Regions from separate parts of the Homo sapiens genome. Here regions 1, 3 and 4 are each linked to region 2. Evidence: fine-mapped expression QTL. A gene starts in region 2. Each other region holds a variant in brackets. All regions are shown on one strand. Distances are between the middles of the regions. Region 1 overlaps PRR5-ARHGAP8 (PRR5-ARHGAP8 readthrough). Region 2 holds the start of ARHGAP8 (Rho GTPase activating protein 8). Region 3 overlaps PRR5-ARHGAP8 (PRR5-ARHGAP8 readthrough). Region 4 overlaps PRR5-ARHGAP8 (PRR5-ARHGAP8 readthrough).

What was found. PIP is the estimated chance that this variant, and not a neighbour inherited with it, causes the effect. A credible set is the group of variants that fine-mapping cannot tell apart.
Region 1: its variant is the best candidate, but not a certain one, in a credible set for the expression of ARHGAP8 in spleen (GTEx, PIP 0.76).
Region 3: its variant is the best candidate, but not a certain one, in a credible set for the expression of ARHGAP8 in pancreas (GTEx, PIP 0.80).
Region 4: its variant is the best candidate, but not a certain one, in a credible set for the expression of ARHGAP8 in whole blood (TOPMed, PIP 0.60).

What each region holds. Positions count from the first base shown.
Region 1 is chr22:44,858,881-44,863,761 of GRCh38, reverse strand. It overlaps PRR5-ARHGAP8 (PRR5-ARHGAP8 readthrough), which reads right to left. Exons shown (of 15, transcript NM_181334.6): 14 at 3,928-4,031; 15 at 978-1,487. The coding sequence ends at 1,167. It overlaps ARHGAP8 (Rho GTPase activating protein 8), which reads right to left. Exons shown (of 12, transcript NM_181335.3): 11 at 3,928-4,031; 12 at 978-1,487. The coding sequence ends at 1,167. It overlaps LOC105373062 (a long non-coding RNA gene), which reads left to right. Exons shown (of 4, transcript XR_938302.3): 2 at 141-311; 3 at 551-774; 4 at 4,279-4,306. Among named protein-coding and RNA genes, the nearest start is that of ARHGAP8, 110 kb to the right of the region's middle. RefSeq lists enhancers at 1-189, 3,714-4,408. The variant C/G (reference allele first, on the strand shown) is at 2,025.
Region 2 is chr22:44,750,050-44,754,930 of GRCh38, reverse strand. ARHGAP8 (Rho GTPase activating protein 8) reads right to left here and starts at 2,356. Exons shown (of 12, transcript NM_181335.3): 1 at 2,304-2,356. All of the region lies in intron 4 of PRR5-ARHGAP8 (PRR5-ARHGAP8 readthrough), which reads right to left.
Region 3 is chr22:44,849,993-44,854,873 of GRCh38, reverse strand. All of the region lies in intron 13 of PRR5-ARHGAP8 (PRR5-ARHGAP8 readthrough), which reads right to left. The region is part of intron 10 of ARHGAP8 (Rho GTPase activating protein 8); the gene reads right to left. Among named protein-coding and RNA genes, the nearest start is that of ARHGAP8, 100 kb to the right of the region's middle. The variant T/C (reference allele first, on the strand shown) is at 2,513.
Region 4 is chr22:44,783,865-44,788,319 of GRCh38, reverse strand. PRR5-ARHGAP8 (PRR5-ARHGAP8 readthrough) reads right to left here. Exons shown (of 15, transcript NM_181334.6): 5 at 1,714-1,863. It overlaps ARHGAP8 (Rho GTPase activating protein 8), which reads right to left. Exons shown (of 12, transcript NM_181335.3): 2 at 1,714-1,863. The coding sequence starts at 1,792. Among named protein-coding and RNA genes, the nearest start is that of ARHGAP8, 34 kb to the right of the region's middle. RefSeq lists enhancers at 1,351-1,891, 1,892-2,432. The variant AGAT/T (reference allele first, on the strand shown) is at 1,876.

The DNA of each region.
Region 1 (4,881 bases), 110 kb before region 2:
GGCCTGGGGCTGCCAGTGATTCCCCCAAGCATCCTAACGCGTACCGGGGGTCCCGGCACAACTCGGTCAACACCCCAAGCAGGCACGGAGGGGCCACCATGGGGGATCTGTAGAGGGGACTTTTGTCCTTTGCTCCCCAGAACCTCCCCCGCTTCTCCCTGCATCAAGAGCTGGGGAGACGGCAGCGTGGGACTCGTGGGTAATCCCCTGCAGCGGCCTGCCACTCCTCCCCCACTGCCTGGTCTGGGTGGGGCACAAGACTCAGGCCTAAGCCAATCAGAGCCTTCCCTGGCTGCAGCAATGGGTCTAAGGTGAGCATGTGACCTAGGCTTGTCCAATCAGGGTGAACCTGGGGCTTTTTTGCTGGGACTGTGGCACTAAGAAGTTGTATCCTTCTCTACCATATCTGATGGAAATACAGGGCCCGTTTTGCCAGCCCAAGAGTCAGCCTGCCTGAGACTGCAGAGTCCTGTCGCACCCCAGAGCCCTCGGGCAGCTTGGCTGCTTTATGCCCAATTCTTCACCCTCCCCATATCCACCCCCTTTGCAGGGCCCTCCCTCTGTGACCCTGGCCTTGGCCACCAGGCTTGCTTTGGCCAATGAGATGTGAGCATACAGGACGCCAGTCAAAGCATGAAAACTGCTTGCAATAGCGCTTGTGTGTGCACCTGGACCTATGTTGTAAGAATGTGCCCCGTTTGGCCATTGGAAGGACTTGGGACACCTGGGGGAGAACAGAGTCACCCCAGCTGCCAGCCAGCTCAGCCAGGACATGTAAGTGACCCCCTCAAAAGACCAATAGAACCACCCAGCTGACCCACTGACTCCTGGGCAGTAACTTTCAGTGACTGGGCTTAGGTGGTGTGTTACACAGCAGTGTGGCAGCAGCAGGACCTGGCAGCCGTTAGCCACTCCATTCCTGTTTTCAGTTAAACCACATTGGGTTGGGATTCAAAACATCCATCCTAACAAATGCATTATTCTATCCCGGTCCACAGCTCAGGAACCATGGACAAGAGTCCAAGGACCAGAGGCATGGAGTTTTCATTAGAAGGTTCTGAATTCATCTAATGGCTGGTTATTTTTACAGATGCCAAGTTTACAAAACATACAAGTGCACAGACAGGTGTGGGAGGTAGCTCGAAATATACAGAGTGTTCGCAACACTAGAGACGTCTTCTGGCTGCCATCAGGGGACTCGGAGGTAGGGTAGGCTTGGTGAGGCCCGTGGCTTGTGTCCGTGGCACAGCCTCCTGCAAAGGGGCTGCCCTGCTCCCCTGTTCCCATGGTGCCAGGCCGTGCTCCCCAGGTGCCTCCGGGGTGCTGAAGATCTTTTCATAGTACTCGATCAGCAGTTCAGTGAACATGTTCAGGGGCACAAGGGCACTCAGGGAGGAGACCCCCTGGGATGGCCAGATCAAATTCAGCCCGAAGACACAGGCCAGGTTAGAGCTGTTCATTTTGTTGAAGATGCTCTCCCGGGACACCTGGAGGAAACCACACACAAGTAAAGGGGAGTGAACACCAAGGGGCACGGGCACCTGGAACTCCCTCCCGAACTTAGGGAGAGGCGTAGGTGTAGTGAGAGGAGCACTGGACTGGGAGCCGGCAGCCAGTAATGGGGACCCTGTGCAGCCACCTGCCCACTCAGGGCCTTAGTTACCCTATCTCTAAAAGGAAGGCTTGGCCTCCATGTCCTGGAGGACCCTCTGGCTCTGACCTTCTGTGACAGCCTCAACCCCCCACTATCTCCTCTTCCACTGCACCTTCTGGGGAGATGCAATCTTGGGGATGGGCTGTAGCACAGACGGTACGAACTTGGTGACCTCTCTGGCCTCGGCTCTGTGAGTGGCGAACTGGGCATGATGGGGACCAGCCAGCACATCTAGGGGCCACTACGAGGGGCAGGGAGAGTGGAAAGAGCTTGCCTGCTAGAAGGGGCTCCTTGTCCATCTCCGCCAACACGTGCAACCCCAGCACGGGGGAGTCATTACTCCCCATCTTACAGATGAGGAATCTGGGGC[C/G]TGGAAGGTACAGGAGACTTGCCCAAGGTCATGTGGCCAGCCAGTGGCAGGGGGCCATGTGGACCAACGTGAGGGCAGGGCCTGTTCTCTGCTCCTTGCCTCCCTACAAGATTCAAGCTGGGGGGAACCTCAGTCAGAAACAGGGGTCATGAGGCGGTGAGTACCAGGGCAGAGCAGAGAACTGGAGGGAGGCAGGGCCAGGCACCACCCTCACAGATCTGTTGAGGATGCTCAGGTGAGATGGCTGGATGCCTTTCAGGCTCCCCCTGGCTGCCGGTCCCCCAAGCCCGTTGCAGGTGTGCACCAGCCAGGCCCACTGCAGGCCACCCCTCCTCAAGCCGAGGCCCCCAGGTGCCACTGGGGTGATAACACGCAACACCACACCCCACCAGGTGCATTCACATCGGTGCCCATGGAGGTGGCGGCTAGAGAGAGAAATCAGTCTCTCCTAATGAAAAAGAAGTAGGCTGGGTGCAGTGGCTCACACCTGTAATCCCAGCACTCTTAAGAGGCCGAGGCAGGTGGATCACCTGAGGTCAGGAGTTCAAGATCAGCCTGGCCAATGTGACGAAACCCCATCTCTACTAAAAAAACAAAAATTAGCCGGGCATGGTGGTTCTCACCTGTAATCCCAGCTACGTGGGAGGCTGGGGTTGCAGTGAGCTGAGATTGCACCAGTGCACACCAGCTAGGGCAACAGAGCAAGACTGTCTCAAAAAATTTTTTTGAGAGAATTAGGAGAGTTTAGTTTTGGGCCTCTGAGAAATTATGTCAAGCAACAGGGAGAAAAAAAATTGTTGTAAAACCAAGAAGTGACATTCTCCAACAGACTCTGGGATGTGACGCCTACTCTGCTCAGGCTCTCCTCACCCTGCACAGCCTGGGGCGAAGGCCTGGAGAGATGGAGGGGGTTAAACATTCAAGGCCGTGGGTCTGGGGGTTGGGGGTGGACCCACGTGGATGTGTTGAACCTTCCCCTGTTGGCTGCACAGGTTTTTGCTCCAAATGGATCCCTGCCCCAGGGGGAGAGCACACTAAGCCCAGGCCCAGAGCACTGAAGGGTTTCTCTCTCTCTGGTCATTTGCTTAGCCTGGTGTGTAGTAGATTGAATGGTGGCCCCTCTAAGATAGACCACAGAGAATCTGACTGTGACCTTATTTGGAACGAGGGCCGTTGCAGCTGTCGTTGAGGATCTCAAGATGAGATCATCCCGCGTCATCTGGGTGGGTCCTAAACCCAGTGACATATGGCAGGGGGTCCACACTTAGGAGGGAAAGGTGGAGGGAGATTAGACACACACACAGACAAAGGCCAGGGGGGAGCTGGAGGCATAGCTGGAGTGACCAGGAGCTGGGAGAGGCCAGGAAGGGGAACCTTCCCTAGAGCCTCTGGAAGGAGCACAGCCCGCCACACCTTGCTTTTGGACTGCTAGCCTCTAGAAGAGTGACACAGTAAATCTGTTTTAAGGCACCCACGATGCAGTCACAGGAACTTAATGTACGTGGTTCTGGGTGTATCCCTTCCCCAGGAATGGTCAGCTCAGTCCACTGGGCTCTGTACCAGTGGTGGACACAGCTCCCACCTCCTAGAGACTCAGCCCAAGCAGGAAATGACATGGGGGCAGAGGACCCCAATAACAAAAGTCACTGGCAATGGCTGAGGGACAGCAGGTACAGGAGCAGGCAGGGGCAGGTACGCCCTGTCTGACAGGCAGGAGGTCCGCAGCAGCATGGGTGCCTGACCAGGCCTTGGATGAGGTCCTTGGGGGGCAGGGAGTGGTATTCCGAGGCCCAAGCAGGGCATGACCCCAGACCCAGGGCAAGGAGGGGACTGGTCCATGCGGGCCCAGCATGGGAGGGAAGGCCACTGGGCTTCACCCCAAGCTCCCCCCTTCCCCACTCACCGCATGCAGGAAGCCCATGAGGTAGCGGAGGACGACGTAGTTGTGCTCTGGGAGGCTCCGTAAGATCTGGCGGCAGCCAGTGACACGCAGGCTGCTCTCCACACCTGGAAGGGCATGGGGCTCCCTGCTGAGCTCCAGAGGGGCCAGGGGCAGCGCTGCATCCCGGCCCGGGAGGAGAACAGGGGTGTAGGAAGGACAGCTCTGAGGATGGACTATCCCACATTTGGGCTTGGGACCCCCACTTATCTTCTGGCCGTATGGCTCTGCTCAGCAAACCTGTGTGTTTGGCTATTCTTGCTGAGATGGGGTTATTTATAAGAAAAGAGGTTTAACTGGCTCATGGTTCTACAGGCTGTACAAGCATGGCACCAGCACCTGTTCAGCTTCTGGAGAAGCCTCAGGAGGCTTCCAATTATGGCAGAAGGCAAAAAGGAAGGAGGTGCATCACGTGGCAAAAACAGGAGCAAGAGAGAGTGGGACAGAGGTGCCACATGCTTTTAAACCAGATCTGGTAAGAACTCACTATCTCGAGGACAGCACCAACCCATGAGGTATCTGCCCTCATGATCCAATCACCTGCCACCAGTCCCCACCTCCAAAGTTTCAATTCAACATGAGACGCGCTGGGGACTCAGATCCAAGCCCTATCATCACCTGAATTCTACAAGCTCCATCCCTCTGCTTTATCAGCCAGCAGCACCACCTTCCAGGAAGCTGCTAAAGCCGAATCACTTTATAAATGGGAGTGGTCTAGACCAGGGGTTGGCAAACTACGGCCCATGGCTTAGATCTGGCCCACTGCCTGTTTTTGCCAATAACGTTTTCTTGGAACACAGCCACGGACATTTTGTACATTGCCTGTGGCTGCTTTTGCCTCATCAGGGCAGAGCTGAGTAGTTGCAACAGAGACTACAAGGCCCACAAAGCCTAACATATTTACTATCTGGCCTTTTA
Region 2 (4,881 bases):
CTCACCCTCATGCTGCCTGTGCCTCAGTTTCCCTATCAGTGAAATGAGGGTAAAATCAGGGAATGGGATGGGTTTTTTTTAATGTGGTGAAACATACTGTCAGGCACCTCCAGGACCTGAGTTCCTTGCTCTCGTCTCTTTAACCGAAGCCGCCTTTAACTCCATCGTTTACAGTGTGCCCATGAATAGCTCAGCCTAGAACTGGCTTGTTAGGCAGATGGCATGATGTCCCAGGCATGTTTAAGTCAAGTAAGTTTCAATGACTCGGCCGGGTGTGGTGGCTCATGCCTGTAATCCCAGCACTCCAAGCACTTTGGAAGGCCAAGGCAGACAAATCGTCTGAGGTCAGGAGTTTGAGACCAGCCTGCCTAACATGGTGAAACCCCACTTCTACTAAAAATACAAAAATTAGCTGGGTGTGGTGGTGGGCGCCTGTAATCCTAGCTACTCTGGATGCTGAGGCACGAGAAGCACTTGAACCAAGGAGGCAGAGGTTGCAGTGAGCTGAGATCGTGCCATTGCACTCCAGCCTGGGCGACAAGAGCGAAAACTGCGTCACACACACACACACACACACACACACACACACACAAAGTTTCAATGACCCAATGATGTTATCCAAGTAAATTGGCCCACCCCGTCAGGCACTCCATGGACTTTTCCACCCGTACCTCACAAGCGAAGTATCCCTAGCCAGTAGGTGCCATTCTCTTCCCCATCCACCTCCCATCCACCTTCCAGCTCAATGGCCACCTCCTCCAGGAAGCCCTTCCTAAGCTCCCACAAACCCTTGGATTCTCTCTACACAGAAGCCAGACTCTGGGCCCCTGAGGGCAGGGACCAGGCAGCTGGCTGTCCACAAGAATCAGCTGGGCTCAGGCCCACATCCCATGTCCCTCTTCGCCCTACCCCCAACTCTGGCGTTGGTTTGGGGAATGGTTAGTCAGTGAATCGAATGAGGAGTCCACAAACATGATCCTAAAGCTGCCAACAGAGAGGCCAACCAAAGGACATCGACTTCTGAAACGGCTGAGTCTTAAGCATTGAGTTCTCAGCTGGACAAATGCCAACACTGCATTTCACAGGCAAGCGAGGGACGGCACAGAGCTCTCTGGAATCTACACAGCCTCTGTCACAAAACCCTGAAGTCGGTGGCCAAGGTGCTGTCCCCATCCCGCCAAACAATCCCACCCTCCTTCCCGGGTGGACTCTGCGGTTCCTTCTCCGGGGCCTTCACACTCCTCCCAAGGCAGCGGAGAAATTTCCAAGTCAGGGTGTGGCAGAGCCCGAGGGATTCTCAGGAGCCCCCCCACCCCCCACAGGATTGAGGGAAAGTGAAAGGCAGGGCCTCCCTGCCTTCCTGACGACCTCCGAGGCTGCTAGCGGATTGGTTTAAACTTTGGGCTTTTAGGCCGGGCGCGGTGTCTCACGACTGTAATCCCAGCACTTTGGGAGGCCCAGGAAGACGGATCACCTGAGGTCAGGTGGTCGAGACCAGCCTGGACAACATGGTGAAACCCTGTCTGTACTAAAAATACAAAAAATTAGCTGGCATGGTGTCAGTCCCTGTAATCCCAGCTACTCGGGAGGCTGAGGCACAAGAATCGCTTGAACCCAGGAGGCGGAGGTTGCAGTGAGCAGAGATGCAACACTGCAATCCAGCCTGGGGACAGAGCAAGACTCGGTGTCAAAAAAAAAAAAAAAAGTTTCTGCTTTTAACTCCCGGGGGGTTCCACCGCTGTGTGTTGAACCGGCCAGCCCCCCACCCCCTGAGTTTGAATCAGCGCAGCACCTGCCCCGGCCTCCGTTTTCTCATCTATGAAACGGGAATGACCTCACCCACCTTGTAGGTTTGGGGTGTGTGGGGGCGGGGGAGGTGCCTCCCCCAGGCGCTGACCCGACCTAACCTGAGACCCCAGGACGGAAGCAAAAAAGGAACATTTGAGCTGACACCGTCCGGCCAGACCAGACCAAAACGCAGGCTGAGAGAGGCGAGGGCGGGGAAGGCGGTGCGGGGTGAGAAGGAACAGGACAGGGGAAAAAGCAGAGGAGGGGAGTGTGGGGGGGCGGGAAAGAAAGGAGGTGAAGGGAGAGGGAGTCTAGAACCCACAGGGGACCCGGAGGCTGCGCGCCGGCCGGAGGGTCTCCCCCCGGCCGCACGTGGCGTCGCGCCCGCCTGGGCGTCCCTACCCGGCCAGCGGCCCCTTGTCCCCGTACACGCCCTGGGAGCCCCCGCGGCGCACCCCCCCACCCCGAGCACGGCCTCCTCCCTGCGCGCTCCCTCCCGCCGCCGCCCGCCTTACCTGGCCACGGACCCCGCCGGCCCCCACCTGCGTGCCGGGTCTGCCGCTCACCTGGCCCCTCCCCGGACGTGGCTCCCGGGCAGGCCCCGCCCCCCCGCCCCTCCGCCCAGCCCCGCCCCTCCGCCCCTGCTACCCGGCGGGAGCCATTTCCCAGGTGCACGAGCTGACCCTGGGTCCACCTGTGTGTCGGGGGGACAGGGCGGGGTCGGGCGGAGCACACGCGCTCAGGAGCCCCTCGCACATCGCACCCTGGGCACCCCGATTCCCGGCTGGGCCGCGTCCCCGTCCCGCACGGCACCCATGCCTGGGGCGGGCACTTTCTTGCTGATCCATTTCCCCATTTCTTATTTTATTTATTCATTATTTTACTTTATGTATGTATGTATTTATTTATTTATTTTGAGACGGAGTCTCGCGCTGTCGCCCAGGCTGGAGTGCAGTGGCGCGATCTCGGCTTACTGCAGCTTCAACCTCCCGAGTTCAAGCGATCCTCCCACCTCAGCCTTCATAGTAGATGGGATTACAGACGTGCGCCGCCAAGCCCGGCTAAGTTTTGTATTTTTAGTGGAGACCGGGTTTCACCATGTTGGCCAGGCTGGTCTCGAACTCCCAACCTCAAACGATCCTCCCGCCTCCACCTCCCAAAGTGTTGAAATTACAGGCGTGAGCCACTGCGCCGGGCCCCATTTTTAATTTTACTTTTTTGAGACAGGGGTCTCGCTCTGTTCAGGCTGGAGTGCAGTGTCTTGAACTTGGTTCACTGCAGCCTCTACCTCCTGGATTCAGGCGATCCTCCGGCCTCAGCTTCCCGAGTAGCTGGGACCGCAGGTGTGCACCACCATACCCAGCTAATTTTTGTAGTTTTTGTAGAGACAGGAGTCTTGCCATGTTGTCCAGGCTGGTCTGGAACTCCTGGGCTCAAGTGATCCACCCTCCTCAGCCTCTCAAAGTGTTGGGATTACGTGCCTGAGCTACTGCACCTGGCCCCTTTCGTTAGGGGTGTACAAAGCGTGGCAGAACTGGGAGAATTGGAGGGACTTGAGAGGAAATTTTCCCTAGGGTTTGTTGAAGGATTTGTATCTGAGGAAAGCAGCTTAGATACAACAAAATATATCAGGCCCAGAGAAACAGTAGTATAGGACTTCAGTCCAGGTCCCCCTGCAGTGCTTGGGGGGCCATAGTTTTTTGTTTGTTTGTTTGTTTTTTGTTTTTGTTTTTAGAGTCTTGCTTTGTTACCCAGGCTGAGAGTGCAATGGCGCGATCTCAGCTCACTGCAACCTCCACCTCCTGGGTTCAGGCAATTCTCCTGCCTCAGCCTCCCAAGTAGCTGGGATTACAGGGGCCTGCCACCATGTCCAGCTAATTTTTTGTATTTTTGGTAGAGACGGGGTTTCACCATGTTTGCCAGGCTAGTCTTGAACTCCTGACCTCAAGTGATCCACTCACCTCGGCCTCCCAAAGTGCTGGGATTACAGGCATGAGCTACCGCACCCGGCCGTGGGGGCCATGGTTTAAAGGCATTTTGTTCCTGACTCACTGCCTCACCCATTATCTGCATGTTCCTGCAACTTGTGATACAGAGAAAAATGTGTAGCCAATCAACAACTTATTATTTTTATTTTTATTTTAGATTCAAGGGGTACATGTGCAGGTTTGTTAGGGGATATATTGGGTGACACTGAGGTTTGGTTTTCTGTTGATCTCCTTACCCAGGTAGTGAGCACAGTACCCAATAGGAAGTTTTTCAGCCCTTGCCCTACTCCCCCCACCCTTCTGGAGTCCCCAATGTCTTTTGTTCCCATCTTTATATCTGTGGGTACCCAAGGTTTAGCTCCCCCTTAGAAGTGAGACATGTCATATTTGGTTTTCTGTTTCTGCATGAATTCACTTAGGATAATGGCTTCCAGCTGCATCTATGTTGCTGCAAAGGACAAGATTTCATTCTTTTTCATGACTGCATAGTATTCCATGTTGGAAATGTACCACATTTTCTTTATCCAATCCACTATTGATGGGCACCTCAGTTGACCCCATATCTAACCTATAGTGAATAGTGCTGCTATGCACATATGAGTGCAGATGGCTTTTTGGTAGAAAGATTTCTTTTCTTTTGGGTGTGTACCCACTAACGGGATTGCTGGGTTGAAGGGTAGTTCTATTTTAAGTTCTTTGAGAAATCTCCAAGCTGCTTTCCACAGTGGCTGAACTAATTTACATTCCCACCAACAGTGTATAAGTATTCCCCATTCTTTGCAGCCTTGCCAATATCTCCTATTTTTTGACTTTTTAATAACAGCCATTCTGTCCAAAATCAAGATGCTGGCAGAAAAAATAATAATAATAATAGCCATTGACTGATGTGAAATGGTTTCTCCTCGTGGTTTTGATTTGCATTTCTCTGATGATTAGTGATGTTGGGCATTTTTTCATGTTTGTTGGCTGCTTGTATGCGTGTATGTCTTCTTTTGAGAAGTGTCTGTTCATGTCTTTTGTTCTTTGTTTTTTTTGAGACAGAGTCTTGCCCTGTCACCTAGGCTGGAGTGCAGTGGCGCCATCTCGGCTCACTGCAACCTCCTCC
Region 3 (4,881 bases), 100 kb before region 2:
AGGAGCTCAAGACAAGCCTGGCCAACATGGCAACATGGTGAAACCCCGTCTCTACAACAATACAAAAATCAGCCAGGCAAGATGGCCGGTGCCTGTAATCCCAGCTACTCGGGAGGCTGAGGTGGGAGAATTGCTTGAACCCAGGAGCCAGAGGTTGCAGTGAGCTGAGATGGTGCCATTGCACTCCAGCCTGGGCAACAGAGCGAGACTCCATCTCAACACAAAAACAAAACAAAAAAACCAGCTGCATCTTCTGAGTTACCCATATTAAGTATAATCCAAGCATACATCTTTATGTAGTTGGGCTTACTAGTGAAGTAGGGTTAAAAATGCATAACAAGGGCCTGGCATGGTGGCTCATGCCTATAATCCCAGCACTTTAGGAGGTTGAGGTGGGTGGATCATTTGAGGTCAGGAGTTCAAGACTAGCCTGGGCAACATGGTGAAGCCCGTCTCTACTAAAAATACAATTAGCTGGGTGTGGCGGCGCACACCTGTAATCCCAGCTACTCCGGAGGCTGAGGCAGATGGATCACTTGAGCCCAGGAGGCAGAAGTTGTAATGAGCCAAGATCAGGCCACTGCACTCCAACCTGGGCAACAAAGCAAGACTCCGTCTCAAAAAAAAAAAAAAAAAGATACAAGGGGAATTCCTTGAAATGACAACTAGCCTTATTCAGTGTTATGTATGACGTTACAGTGAGTAAGCAAGGCCGCTTCCTGGCAGGCCCAGGAAACTTAAAATATATTGAGAACCTTGAGAAGAGAGGAATTCTCTCAAATCTACAGATACTGCAGGCAAAGTCTGATGGTTTTTTTTTTTTTTTTTTTTTTTTTTTTTTTTTTTTTTGAGACAGAGTCTCGCTGTGTCCCAGGCTGGAGTGCAATGGTGAGATCTCAGCTCACTGCAACCTCTGCCTCCCGGGTTCAAGCGATCCTCCTGCCTCAGCCTCCCGAGTAGCTGGGATTACAGGTGCATGCCACCATGCCTGGCTAATTCTGTATTTTTAGTAGAGATGGGATTTCTCCATGTTGGTCAGACTGGTCTCAAACTCCCAACCTCAGGTGATCCACCCGCCTTGGTCTCCCAAAGTGCTAGGATTACAGGCGTGAACCACCGCAGCTGGCCCTGATGGCAAATTTTTAACTTGGCTTTCTAGCCTCAAGAGGCTTTTAAAAAGTGAATCTGAGATTCCTTATTAAAAGTTCTAGCAAGGTAGACTTAAAAAGAGCCGACATAGGTCAATTCCCATTCTTGCTGCCCTTATGTAAATAATCAGGCCAAATTCTAATGAAACCAGACTTATTTTGTAACTGAGAATCAAGAGAGAAGCAACGGTACAGAGAAATGATGCTCCCGTGGAAAACTACGGCGCACGCTTGCGGGTTCTCAGTTCCTCTCCTTTCCTCCAATATCTGGCTACGACGCTCCAAGCTAACATTTCCAGTTTTCTCCTACCCCCTGAGTTGGCATGACAAAGAACTAAAACCTGCCATTTCCCCAAAGCCCCAAAAGCTGACGCTGGAAGACTTGATATAAACTTCAGAGAAATCACAGCAGATGATGTACGGATAGTCCTTGTGCCTCCTACTCAGTCTGCTCAGAAAGTTCACCGGAACACCCAGTGCCATCACCAAAGACATCTAAATTGCAAACTATGGAATTCACTGGCCAGCTGCTGCCACTCTCTCTCTACCATGAAAGGATACTTCAAGCCAACATCTAGGAATCTTCTCAACTAAATGTTCTCCTGACTAAAAAAATGGAGTTTAGGCCGGACACGGTGGCTCATGCCTGTAATCCCAGCACTTTGGGAGGCTGAGGTGGGCGGATCACAAGGTCAGGAGATTGAGACCATCCTGGCTGACACAGTGAAATGCTGTCTCTACTAAAAATACAAAAAATTAGCCAGGCGTGGTGACACGGGCCTGTCGTCCCAGCTACTCGGCAGGCTGGGGCAGGAGAAAGGCTTGAACCTGGGAGGTGGAGGTTGCACTGAGCCGAGATCGTGCCACTGCACTCCAGCCTGAGTGAGAGTGAGACTTCACCTCAAAAACAAAACAAACAAACAAAAAACAAAATAAAAAAAATCCCCGGAACTTATGGTTTGTTCAAACCACTGAACTTCATGTTTGTTGACAAAGAAAGGCCCCTTATTAACAGGCTGACTTAGGTAGTCACCCTACTCCCACCTCCACCGCTACCTCCTGAATTGAGACACAACTCTTTCCCTGGAGTGACCTAGTCACAGCACTGAGAGAAGGATTCATGCAACATGAGACAATCTACCAACTCAGTTTCTGGACTGTAAAACTTCCTGGGGAAAGTTCCAGATGGGGGAATGCTGGGGTCCGGAACACTACTGTCCCAAATATGGAGCCTGGGCATGCTGAATATGTTATTGAGCTGAAGGAATCTAAGAAAGGCAGGTGTGGGAAGGGCTCTCTCTGACTCCCCCTACTTCTGTGTAGCAGATCATAAAACCTTCTAATGGGAGGGGGTCTTCCCTATG[T/C]CCAGAGGGTGCCTTATCTCTAAAGACGGCGGAATGACAAAAGGAATTGAAGCTCCATGACTTTCCACTCTTCACCAAACCTAGTATCAAAACATTCGGGCTGAACCATGTCTTCACCTTCCTTCACCTTCCTTCCTCCCTTCCTTTTTTTTTTTTTTTTTTTTTTTTTTTTGACAAAGTCTCACTCTGTCGCCCAGGCTGGAGTGCAGCAGTGCGATCTCGGCTCACTACAACCTCTGCCTCCTGGGTTCAAAGCAGTTCTCGTGCCTCAGCCTCCTGAGTAGCTAGGATTACAGGTGTCCACCACCACGCCCAGCTAATTTTTGTATTTTTAGTGGAGACGGGGTTTCACCATGTTGGCCAGGCTGATCTCAAACTCCTGACCTCAGGTGATCCACCCACCTTGGCTTCCCGAAGTGCTGAGTTTACAGGAGTGAGCCACTGCACCCGGCCCATTTTCTTTATTTCTTTTCTTTCTTGCTTGCTTTCCTCCCTCCCTCCCTCCATCATTCCTTCTGTTTTGGGGACATGGTCTTGCTCTTTTGTCCAGGCTGGAGTACAGTGGTGTGATCATGGCTCACTGTAGCCTCCAACTCCCAGGCTCAGGTGATCTCCCACCTCAGCCTCCTGAGCAGCTGGGACTACAGGCATACACTACCAAGCCCAGCCAATTTTTAAAATCTTTTGTAGAGATGGGGTCTCACTATGTTTCCCAGGCTGGACTCAAACTCTTGGACTCAAACTCTTGGACTCAAGTGATCTTTCTGCCTTGGCCTCCCAAAGTGCTGGGATTACAGGCATGAGCCACCATGCCCAGCCTGGGTCTTCATTTTCTTCATTTTCATAAAGGTTCCCATGTCAGGTGGAGGTTGCAGTGTGCCGAGATTATGCCACGGCACTCCAGCCTGGGCGACAGAGCGAGACACTGTCTCAAAAATTAAATAAATAAATAAATAAATAAATAAATATTTAAAAGGCTCCTGTGTCATGTAAAACTTACATTAAATAAACTGGCATGCTTTTCTCGTGTGAATCTGTCTTTTGTCAGAATAACAAGTTACAGGGTTCCCACCAATGAACCTAAGACGGGTAGCAGGAAAGGATTTTTTCCTTCCCAACAGAGGGTTGCTTAATATGACTACGCTCTCCAGGTTTGTTAATTGGTGCCTATCCGGAAGTGGACAAATGTCTGGTATCTTTATGACCGGAGGCAGTGGTGCAAGCCAGAGCTGGGTCCTTCCCTCCCCGGGGACTGGGAGGCAGAGGTAGCACTTTGAATGTTTTCATTTCAAAGAGATGGCTCTCAGGTCCTTGACATAGCTCTGGGTGGTAGATGATTTTCATCTCAAAGGACAGATAAAGGATTCATAATTGCAAGCTTTTTTTTTTTTTTTTTTTGAGATGGAGTCTTGTTCTGTCACCTAGGCTGCAGTGCAATGGCACGATCCTGGCTCACTACAACCTCTGCCTCCTGGGTTCAAGTCATTCTCCTGCCTCAGCCTCCTGAGTAGCTGGGATTACAGGCGTGCACCACCACGCTTGGCTAATTTTTGTATTTTAGTAGAGACAGGGTTTTGCCATGTTGACCAGGCTGGTCTTGAACTCCTATGACAAGTGATCCACCCAACTCAGCCTCTCAAAGTGCTGGGATTACAGGTGTGAGCCACCATGCCTGGCCCACAATTGCAAGCTTTCTAAAGGAACTGCTGCTCAAAGAGGGGTTCCAGGGCCTATCTCCCTGTCACCAGGTTTTGGCTGGAACAAACAGTAAGTTCGCCTGGCAGCATTGAGTTTTCTCAAGCAGGAACCTACAGAGGCTGGAGTCATCATCCCTCTGCAGGGGCTAATGAAGTTGGGAGGCTTCTGGAAGCTTCTCTCTAGGACACAGCCTGGCGCATTCAGGTGATGGAGCATTGTCCATCTTGCCTGCTCTGGCCCCGGCTGGTAGGATGCTGCTGAATGTAGTGCCTCCTTCTGTCTCCACCAGATAGGTACCTCTATGCGCATGATCAAATTTGTCTCCATGAGGCTCAGCCTGGCTCTGAACTCTCCCAGGCTTCCCATCCACTAGCCAAAGTCAGTCAGCCCTCAACATCTTTCATGGTCTTCCAGGGTGTAGGAGAGACCTTCCCCATCTCAGAAAGGGCGTTGCATTTGGCAGGCGCTTAGGAGCACTGCTGAGTAAATGGGTGTAAATTTGCCTTTGAGGGGAGTTTGGGGTCCAGCGACCTTGACAGGACGCCTTGAGACTGAAATCAGTCTCCAGCCCCATGCCCTCCCCAGAGGTCAGGCTGGTCTCACATCACTCAAAGCCCGCACCCTCTAACCATGTAATTGGTCTTTCTGGAATGGCCACCCCTACACCCCTA
Region 4 (4,455 bases), 34 kb before region 2:
TGGCAAAACCCTGTCTCTACTAAAAACACAAAAATTAGCTGGGTGTGGTGGCAGGCGCCTGTAATCCCAGCTACTTGGGAGGCTGAGACAGGAGAATCACTTGAACACGGGAGGTGGAGTTTAGAGTAAGCCAAGACCGTGCCATTGCACTCCAGTCTGGGTGACAAAATGAAACTCCATCTCAAAATAACAATAATAAAATAATAATAATAATAATAATAACATATAATAAAAATTTTAAACACTATATAAATTAAAAATATATATTTCCTGCCTTCCTTCTGTTGGCACCTGGCCAGGGGATCTGCATTCCTCACACTCGGTCCAGTGTTCCCTCTACCTAAATCCTAGAAGTTTTCTTAAAAGGACATTTGGGGGGAAAAAAAAAAAAAAAAAAAAAGGACATTTGGGGCTTCAAATGACTGAGTGCCTGTCAAGTCCTGCCCTCTTGCTGTCCCTCCTGTACACAGTGTGCACTAAAGTGTTTATCATGTTTCTGGGGTCTTTAACTGTTTGAGAACTGGCCTCTTTTTATTATTACCTTGACAAGATTCCAGGCCCCTCAGAGATGACAGCTAATGATTATGGAGCTCAGTGCAGGGGACATCAACGTGAGGGTTGGACTCACTGCCCATGGGAGAAATGCATGCTCAGACCTAAATTAAAGCAATGCAAGGCCGGGCACGGTGGCTCACGCCTATAATCCCAGCATTCTGGGAGACCGAGACAGGTGGATCACTTGAGGTCAGGAGTTCAAGACCAGCCTGACCAAAATGGCGAAACCCCGTCTCTACTAAAAATACAAAAATTAGCTGAGTGTGGGGGTGAGCGCCTGTAATCCCAGCTACTTGGGAGGCTGAGGAGGAGAATCTCTTGAACCCGGGAGGCAGAGGTTGCTGTGAGCTGGGATCGTACTACTGCACTCCAGCCTGGGCGACAGAGCGAAACCCTGTCTCAAACAAAACAAAACAAAACAAAACAAAACAAAACAAAACAAAGCAACGCAAGATGTTTTCCTCTGACCAACTGCTGGGCACGGAGTTGTTTGTTGTCTACGTTTTTGCAGATGTTTGTTGCTTTGGATGAGACATAACAGTGCCCTTGATTAATAAAACAATTCATTAAATTTCAGCCTCTGCTCTTTAAAGCCTAGCAGGACACTGCCCGTTGGCTTCTCGGAGCACCTGGGCAATGCTTTGACAAGTGTGTAATTTATTTCTCCAAACACACTAGCAGGCCCTCCTTTTCCAATTAGTTTTACTTCTTTCTTTTTTTTTTTTTTGTTTTTTTGAGACAGGGTCTCACCACTCTGTCACTCTGTCACCCAGGCTGGAGTGCAGTGGTGTGATCTTGGCTCACTGTGCAACCTCTGCCTCCCGGGCTGAAGCAATCTTCCCACCTCAGCCCCGCAAGTAGCTGGGAATACAGGCATGCAACACCATGCTCGGCTGATTTTTGTATTTTTTTTGTAGAGATGGGGTCTCACTACATTGCCCAGGCTGGTCTCGAATTCGTGGGCTGAAGCAATCTGCCCACTTTGGCCTCACAAAGTGCTAGGATTAAAGGTATGAGCCACTGCACCTGGCTCTAATTAGATTTCAATCTTGCCCAGCTGCAGTGAGGCAGCCCCTGACGAGCCCACTTTGCCTCAAAGTTGCCGAGAGGAAGGCTGCTCTGCCCATGGTCCTGCAGACTGCCCAGCTGGGGCCCTACCTGCCACCTGCAGAATGCCATGTCTGGCCACGTCGTAGAACGGGTGACTCGTGCTCAGCGCAGGATCCTGGCCAGCCATGGGCACCACCGAGGGCCTCTTCCTCACTGCACCCAGCACAGCAGCCGCCGCCGCCTTGTCTCTCTGCAGCTCTGCGGCAAAGA[AGAT/T]TAAAGGAAGTCAGTGCATTCTCCAGTAAGGCGGGGAATGAGGGAGCCTCCTGATGCCTTTCATAAGACAGTCACCCACCTCTGCTGCACACCCACTACGCGCCCTACCTCAGCCGTGCACCCACTACGCGCCCTGCCTCAGCCGAGCACCCACTAGGCGCCCTGCCTCAGCCGAGCACCCAGTACGCGCCCTCCCTCAGCCGAGCACCCATTATACACTCTACATCAGTCGAGCACCCACTATACGCCCTACCTCAGCCGAGCACCCATTATGCACTCGACATCAGCCGAGCACCCACTATGCGACCTACCTCAGCCATGCACCCACTGTGTACTCTACCTCGGTTGTACACCAAGTGCCCATCCAGTGTCCAGCACCATGGAGGGAGAAAAATAAGACCTAAGGGTCAGATACTGTCCACATTGACAGGGGTGGCAACTAAGGCTCAGAGAGGGAGAGTGACTTGCTAACTGGCAGCAAGGTGTGGACTTAACCTTGAACCTCCAGCTCCAAATTCTGAGCCAGGCCTCCATGAAAGACCCTGACACTGGCAGCCAGCAGGAAGCCAGTGCTGCCGAAAGCACCAAGGTGGGCTGGGGTTGAGGGCAGGCACTGGGGTCACTGCCATATGAGGAAGAAAGAAAAGGCTGCCCTCCTAAGTTGAATCTTAGCAGGGGAGGTTCTCATGCAAAACCAATCAGGGTTCTTAGAGAAATGTTTTCAGCTGCAAAAAAGAACAGGAATTTTGAATTTCAAGGTTAGAGCAGATGTAGGATCCCAGGTGTAGGGGGTTGAAGACTATCCCCTCCCCACCCCAGTATTCCTCCTGGAGCTCGGAATGTGACCTTATTTGGAAGTCGGGTCTTTGGAGATGTAAGTAGTTAAGATGTGGTCAACTGGATCAAGGTGGGCCCTGAATCCAATGACTCAGGAGATACAAGGGGAGGGTGTGTGAGGACGGAGTCACAGACTAGTGTGATGCGGCCGCAAGCCAAGGGACACCAGGAACCACCAGAAGATGCAAAAAAGACCCTCCCCTGGAGCCTTCGGGAAAGTGCAGCTCTGCAGACACCTTGACTTTGGACTGGTGGCCTCCAGAACTGAGACAGTGACCTGTTGTCTTAAGCCGCCAGGTTGTGGCACTTTGCTGGCGGCCCGAGGAGATGGGTAGATTCAGGTCCCATGGAGTTAGGAGGCCTAGGGCATGACGAGGCTGGTGAGGGTGCCCGAGGAGAAAGCACTGGCTTTTCTAACAATTTCTGGAGGTGATTCTGATGCAAAGTCAGGTTTGAGATTCACTCATCCAGACCAACACCCCATCGAGGAGGGAGCGTGAGGCGGGGCCTGAGGGCTGCCTCACATGGGCTGGAAGCTGCTTCCCACACCTCCCTGCCCACTCAGTCCCGGTCTACCCCAGTCCTTGGGGTGTTTACCTGGTATTTACTCAGCACCACTCTGTGCAGGAATGGGGCGGGGGATGGGGCCAAGGCCCCTGTTCATCAACAGGTGTGAGGGTCCCAGGGTGGGGTGAGTAGGGGGTGCCACAGGACACCCCTCCTTCCAGTCAGTCAACAAATATGCATTGAGTACCTACTATGTGCCAAGAACACTTTCCGGCAGTGAGGACCCAGCAGCCACACAGGCAAAGCCCCTGCGTCGGGCAGAACAGAGGCCTCCCAGTGAGGTCCACATCCCGCTCCCTGGACCCTGTGCATGTGACTGTCTGTGGCAAAAGCGATTCTGCAGAGGGGATTAAGTTAAGGATCCTGAGATGAGTGGGTTATCGTGGATTATCCAGTTGGGCCCAAAGTACAGTTGTCTCTCAGTATCCTGGAGGGATTGGTTCCAGGACCCCCCAGGGATACCAAAATCTTTGGAAGCTCAAATCCCTGATAGAAAATGGCATAGTGTTTGCAAGGAACCTACACACATTCTCCCGTATTGTTCAAATCACCTCTAGATTACTTATAATACCAAATACAATGTAAATGCTATGTAAGGAATTTTTATACTGTTTGTTGTTGTTTTGTTTTGTTTGAGACCGAGTCTCACTCCCTCGCCCAGGCTGGAGTGCAGTGGCATGATCTCTGCTCACTGCAACCTCCACCACCTGGATTCAAGCAATTCTCCTGCCTCAGCCTCCTGAGTAGCTGGAATTACAGGCATGCACCACCACGCTCAGCTAATTTTTGTCTTTTTAGTAGAGACAGGGTTTCACCATGTTGGCCAGACTGGTCTCGAACCCCTGGCCTCAAGTGATCTGCCTTCCTTGACCTCCCAAAGTGCTGGGATTACAGGTGTGAGTCACCGTGGCTGGCAGTGTACTTTTTTTTTATTTTTAATTTGCATGGTTTTATTGTGGTATTAAGATTTTTGCATTGCTTTTATTATTGTATTTTTTATGTATTATGTTATGAAGTATTTTTGATTTGCAGCTGGTTGCATCCTTGGATACAGAACCCGTGGGTGCAGAGGTTGAGTATAATTGCAGGGGGTCCTTACAAGAATGAGGCAGGAAGGGCTGAGTCAAGGAAGCAGCCATGACCATGGGTGGAGGCAGAGAGAATGATGGGGAC